Regions from separate parts of the Homo sapiens genome. Here region 1 is linked to region 2. The links come from fine-mapping of genetic effects on gene expression. A gene starts in region 2. The other region holds a variant in brackets. All regions are shown on one strand. Distances are between the middles of the regions. Region 1 overlaps HEATR3 (HEAT repeat containing 3). Region 2 holds the start of HEATR3 (HEAT repeat containing 3).

What was found. PIP is the estimated chance that this variant, and not a neighbour inherited with it, causes the effect.
Region 1: its variant is fine-mapped to the expression of HEATR3 in whole blood (INTERVAL, PIP above 0.99).

Annotation. Positions count from the first base shown.
Region 1 is chr16:50,093,364-50,096,275 of GRCh38, forward strand. HEATR3 (HEAT repeat containing 3) reads left to right here. Exons shown (of 15, transcript NM_182922.4): 12 at 1,342-1,430. Among named protein-coding and RNA genes, the nearest start is that of HEATR3-AS1, 28 kb to the left of the region's middle. The variant T/C (reference allele first, on the strand shown) is at 1,598.
Region 2 is chr16:50,064,404-50,067,315 of GRCh38, forward strand. HEATR3 (HEAT repeat containing 3) reads left to right here and starts at 1,567. Exons shown (of 15, transcript NM_182922.4): 1 at 1,567-1,866; 2 at 1,964-2,136. The coding sequence starts at 1,729. HEATR3-AS1 (HEATR3 antisense RNA 1) reads right to left here and starts at 1,921. Exons shown (of 3, transcript NR_186390.1): 1 at 1,650-1,921; 2 at 288-404. RefSeq lists an enhancer at 1,375-1,669 and silencers at 1,520-1,569, 1,900-1,949, 2,030-2,289.

The DNA of each region.
Region 1 (2,912 bases), 29 kb after region 2:
GCACAGTGGAGATGGCTTTTTCCTATTCCACAATGTCTAGGCCAGTGGTTCTCAACCATGGCCACTTATCCCCTCCCACCTCCCACCTGGGGACATTTGGCAACGTCTGGAGGTATTTTTGGTTTTACAACTTGGAAATTGCAACTGGTGTCTAGAGGGTTGAGGCCAGGAATGTTCCTTCACATCCTACGGTGCCCAGGAGACCCCTGCGCACACATAAAATGAAGAATTATCTGGTCCAAAATGTCAGTAGTGCAGAGGCTGAGAAATACTAGTCTAGGGCCTCTGCTGGAAGACTCGCAGAGTATGGGCTGGAATCATCCGAAGTCTTGTTCACTCACGTGTCTGGCAGTTGGTGCAGGGGTTGTCAGGAAGAACACCCACAGTGACCTCTTCATGTGACGCAGGCTTCCTCATAACAGGATGGCTGGGTTCCCAGGGCGGAAGTCGAGAGAAAAAAGAGCATGCACACATGCGTCAGGGCTGGAAGTCATACTGCCTTTTGTGACCTAGCCCGTCACTTTGTATTCTGTTGGTTGAAGAAGTCACAAAGTCCCACCCTGATTTAAGGAAAGGAGAAGTAGATTTCACATCTTTATGGGAAGTGGCAAGGTTCTTGAAGATCACACAGGACTTGAAATATTGCCATGGCCATTTTTAGAAAATACAGTCTACCACACCAAGCAAATCTCTTCCCATCAAAGAGGTTAAGGAGCCAACTCCCCTGGGTGACCCTCACTGTCCCTTGCACGTGCCTGTGCCAGCATAATGGCTTACTGCTGGTGTTCTGTTTGTCCCGTGTGGGAAGAAGGGACAATAAGAAAAGTGTGCGAATAAGGAGTAGGAGTGGGAAGGGGATGCTGGGTCAGTTAAAGTGATGGTGCCATCATGTCCTGGCTCTGCACAAGCAACAGTGTGTGGCTAAGCAGTGGGCTTGGGTTGGCAAGGAAGCATTCTGACTCCACCAAAGGTAGTTCTACCCAGCACCCTGATGGAGATCTATGAATGACAGAATTCAGTCTGCAAAAGCTAGCTTAGGTTTATTATGTGCTGAAGTGTGAGTCAAATGAAAACCCAGTGTCTGGAAGTCAAGGACTGTCTGTAGAACACCTCCTTGCTGTGATTATTTTAACCACGATCATCTTTCAGACTTAGGTATAGAGTGTACAGGGGGCTGTTAACTAAATATTTTGGCTTAAATATCGAGGGTTTTTTTTTGTTTGTTTGTTTTATTAAGAATAGCATTTATTAACATTTAGCATGCTTTGTTTTGTTTGTTGCTTCTACAAAATAGCCTATCTTGGAGAAATGCAAATTTTATATTTCATTTTTGTGTTTTAGATTTTGCTAAACATGTTGACTTTCTAGAAGCCATAAGTAGTGCTTTGAGGGCCCTTTTGCAAACAATGGCCTCCAAGAACATTTCCCAGGTAAGAGTTTTAAAATTTTTTGTATGAAACTTGTAAAGATTGTGTATTATGGAGGCAAAATTCATTACTTCACTATTTTAAAAAATACATATTTCTGTTACAAGAATAATATGTGATCTTTGTAAAAAATAAAACAAAAGTGATTAAAATAAAAAGTAATATCTTTC[T/C]GCTCCCTACCATCAGCAACACACAGGTGCTTTTAATTTAATTTTTTAAATTTTTTAATATATAGGCTTACTAGCAAAACAAGTGCTTTTTAATCAATACAACTTAATTGATAGATATGTTGTAAATAATTTCTCTATCATTGGTCTTTTTTTTAAATCTTTTTTTTTTTTGAGACAGAGTCTTCCTCTGTCGCCCAGGCTGGAGTGCAGTGGCATGATCTCAGCTCACTGCAACCTCTGCCTCCTGGGTTCAAGTGATTCTCGTGCCTCAGCCACCCAAGTAAATGGGATTACAGGCATGCGTCACCACAAAATTTTTGTATTTTTAGTAGAGACGGGGTTTTGCCGTGTGGCCAGGCTGGTCTTAAATGCCTGACCTCAAGTGATCCACCCACCTTGGCCTCCTAAAGTGCTGGGATGACAGGCGTGAACCACCGTACCCAGCTTTTTTTTTTTTTTTTTTTTTAACATTTCATTACAGACTTTGCAAGCATGCCCTCCTGACCCTTCACAGCAATCCATGTGCACTTCATCTCCCATAGGTGCCTTACCACTTTTGCTACTTTTTACTAAGGAGACTTTTAAACATTCCTAAAAGCAGAGATAATAATGTTGCTTTGTTTTTTGAGACGGGGTCTTACTGTGTTGCCCAGGCTAGTCTCCTGGATTCAATCCTCCCACCTCAGCCTCCCAAGTAGCTGGGATTACAGGTGTGCGCTACCATGTCCAAAGCAGAGATAACCCTATGAGCCTGCATGCACCGTCGCCAAGCCTCAGCAGGTTATTAGCGTCCTGTCATTCTTGTGACATGGTTTCATTCATCTCACTGGGTCCTTATTTTTGTTTCCTGGAGTATTTTAAAGCAAATCATATTAGACCCATCAATATTTTATTATGTAGTTCAGTATGCATGTCTGACAGAAAAATAAATTTTTAAAAATCTTAACCCCAGTACCATTACCCCAAGGCTCCAAATTAACGGATATTTCTTATTATCCTTTGGTTTGCACTCTGAGTTCAGTTTTCCCAGCTGCAGTCTAAGTTCAGTTTTCCCAGATTGCCTTAAAAATGTATTTTAACATGGCCAGGCACGGTGGCTCACACCTGTAATCCCAGCACTTTGGGAGGCTGAGGCGGGCAGATCACCTGAGGTCAGGAAGTCAAGACCAGCCTGGCCAACATGGTGAAACCCCGTCTCTACTAAAAATACAAAAGTTAGCTGGGCATGGTGGCGCACTCCTATAATCCCAGCTACTTGGGAGGCTGTGGCAGGAGAATCACTTGAACCTGGGAGGCGGAAGTTGCAGTGAGCCAA
Region 2 (2,912 bases):
GCTACACTTCTGTTACTCTCTAAAATTTGCCATAGTAATTAATTTCCCTTACTGGACAGTCAACTCTTTGACAGTAGGGTTACCATGGAATGGAAATTTTCTCCAGTAGAATGTTGACCTGAGCCTGGGCGTGGTGGCTCATACCTGTAATACTAGCACTTTGGGAGGCTGAGGCAGGCAGATCATTTGAGATCAAGAGTTCGAGACCAGCCTGACCAACGTGGTAAAACCCCGTCTCTCCTAAAAATAATAATAAAAAAAAAATAGCTGGGCATGGTGGCACATACCTGTAATCTCAGCTACTTAGGAGGCTAAGGCAGGAGGACTGCTTGAACTCCAAGGCAGAGGTTACAATAAGCCGAGATCGCACCATTGCACTCCAGCCTGGACAGCAGAGTGAGACTCTGTTTCAAAAACAAAAAGAAAAAAAGAAAATTGACCCAAAGCTATGCATATATTGAGTACTCACTCGTTACATGTCTAATTATAAAGACCACCTAAGATTCTCCTGTACTTTTCCCTCTGCTTAGTATTTACCACAATTATAACCAAAGTTATTCATATAATTATATATTCAACAGATCTCTCCCTGGACTGTAAATTCCATAAGGACAGGGAGAGAGGACAGGAACCAAACTGTCTTGATTACTGCTTTATTCCAATGCCCAGCACTGTACCTAGTACTCAACAAATATCTGCAAAAGAATCTCTTTGTTAAATACGTTTCCAAACATTTACATAGTGCTTAGTATCTGCCAGTCTCTGTTCTTAGCACCTTAAACATATGAACACATTTAGTCTTCGTAACAACTCCATGAGGTATATACTATCGATGTCCCCACTTCACTGATGAGGAAACTAAGGCAGGGAGATTAGGTTCTTAAGCGATTCTGTTTTATCAAATATAGACACACATTCGTTCCAAAACATTAACTAGTCTCTGTCTACGACAGGAGCTATGGGAGGTGCTGGGGACACAAAATAAAATCGTGGTTAATGCTTTTTGAGTACCTGCTATATATCAGGCTTGGTGTTAGGCACTTTACAGAACTTTATGAACTTTACAGAACTTACAATAACCTTGCAAGTTAGGTATTCTTAATCACATTTGATTATTTGTAGCCGGTGTTACTAACTTATTGGTTGCTTGATTGATTGATTGAGACAGGGTCTCGCTCTGTCGCCCAGGATGGAGTGCAGTAGCAGGATCACGGCTCACCTCAGCCTCAAACTCCTGGGGTCAAGTGATCCTCCGGCTTCAACGTCCCAAGTAGCTGGGACTACACACACACGCCACTATGCCCAGATAATTTTTAATTTTTTTGGTGGGGAGGACAGGGAGTGGAGTGTTTTCCTATGTTGCCCAAGATGGTCTCGAACTTCTGGCCTCAAGTGATCCTCTCGCCCGGGTCGGCGTTACTATTCTAGTCCAACCTCCTACTTACCCGGTAAACCCACAAGGCTCCGCCCCTTTGCCGAAGCTGGCCCCGCCTATGCCCTCTTCCACGCCTGCGCGCTCCGTGCGCCAGTTCCCCCCACCCCGCCCCGCCCCAACCCCGACCCGGCAGACGACGCGCCGTGCGCCTGCGCACGGCTTGCCCATGTGTGCTGCAGCCGTCAGCCGGCCCAGCTGAGCAGCAGCAACGGACCTTGTTAACGGCGCGGCAGCCTCCACCGCCTGCTGTTGCCCTCCTCTCTCGGTGGTCTGTCCGCCCAGCGCACGTCACCATGGGCAAGAGCCGGACGAAGCGCTTCAAGCGACCTCAGTTCTCCCCTACGGGCGACTGTCAGGCCGAGGCGGCTGCGGCGGCGAATGGGACCGGAGGCGAGGAGGACGACGGGCCGGCGGCGGAGCTGCTGGAAAAGGTGAGGCGAGGGCTCCGTCGGGCCGGGAGGCGAGACGAGGTTGCCCCGCGCGCGTGCGCATTGCGCGCCTTCTGACCCTTTTCGCTCTCATCCGCAGCTCCAGCACCCGAGCGCCGAGGTCCGCGAGTGCGCCTGCGCAGGGCTGGCCCGGCTGGTGCAGCAGCGGCCGGCACTCCCGGGCCTGGCGCGACGAGACGCCGTGCGCCGCCTCGGGCCGCTGCTGCTAGACCCCAGCCTGGCCGTCAGGGAGACTGCAGCCGGCGCGCTGAGGTGAGCCAGGAAGGGTGCGGGGCGGTGCCCACCGCTGGCCTCCCCCGCGTCTGGGCTGCGGGCGGTCGCAGCGGTCACCCAGCGCCTTCTGTGTGCCATCAGGCACTGGCCCGGTCTCCCGTTTGCAGAGATTTGAAGCCAGTCTCCAGGCTCCGGAGAAGCCCAGTATCCCCGCATCTCATCTGTCCACCTGGCTGCTTCACCTGCAGCGTCCACCTGCTCAGGCGTCCTGCCCTCACGCCTTGCGCACGTTTTACACTCTCCAAAAGCCCTCCTTAGGGTCCCTTGCTTGGATGAACTCTTCAGTTCATGTGTCAGGAATCGTTCTAGATGCAGGGGACTTTGAGCAGCCAAGACTTTTGAGCGAGATCTGTTGACAGCCAAGATCCCTGTCTTGGCACAAGTCATGTTGATGGGGAGACAGACAGGAAGCTAGTAAAAAGGTAAAACATAATATTAAATAGTGAGAATTGCTGTGGGAAAACGAGATGATGATGAGTTGGGGGTGGGAAGTTTGAATTGGGTGCTCTTGGGCCGGGCGCGGTGGCACACACCTGTAATCCCATTGCTTTGGGAGGCCAAGGAAGGAGGATCACTGGAGGCCAGGAGTCCAAGGCCAACCTGGGCAACATAGCAAGACCCCGTCTGTAGAAAAATTATAAACAATTAGTCGGGCATGGTGGTGGGTGCCTGTAATCCCAGCTACTCAGGAGGCTGAGGTAGGAGAATCGCTTGAGCCCAGGAGTTCGAGGCTGCAGTGAGCTATGATCACACCA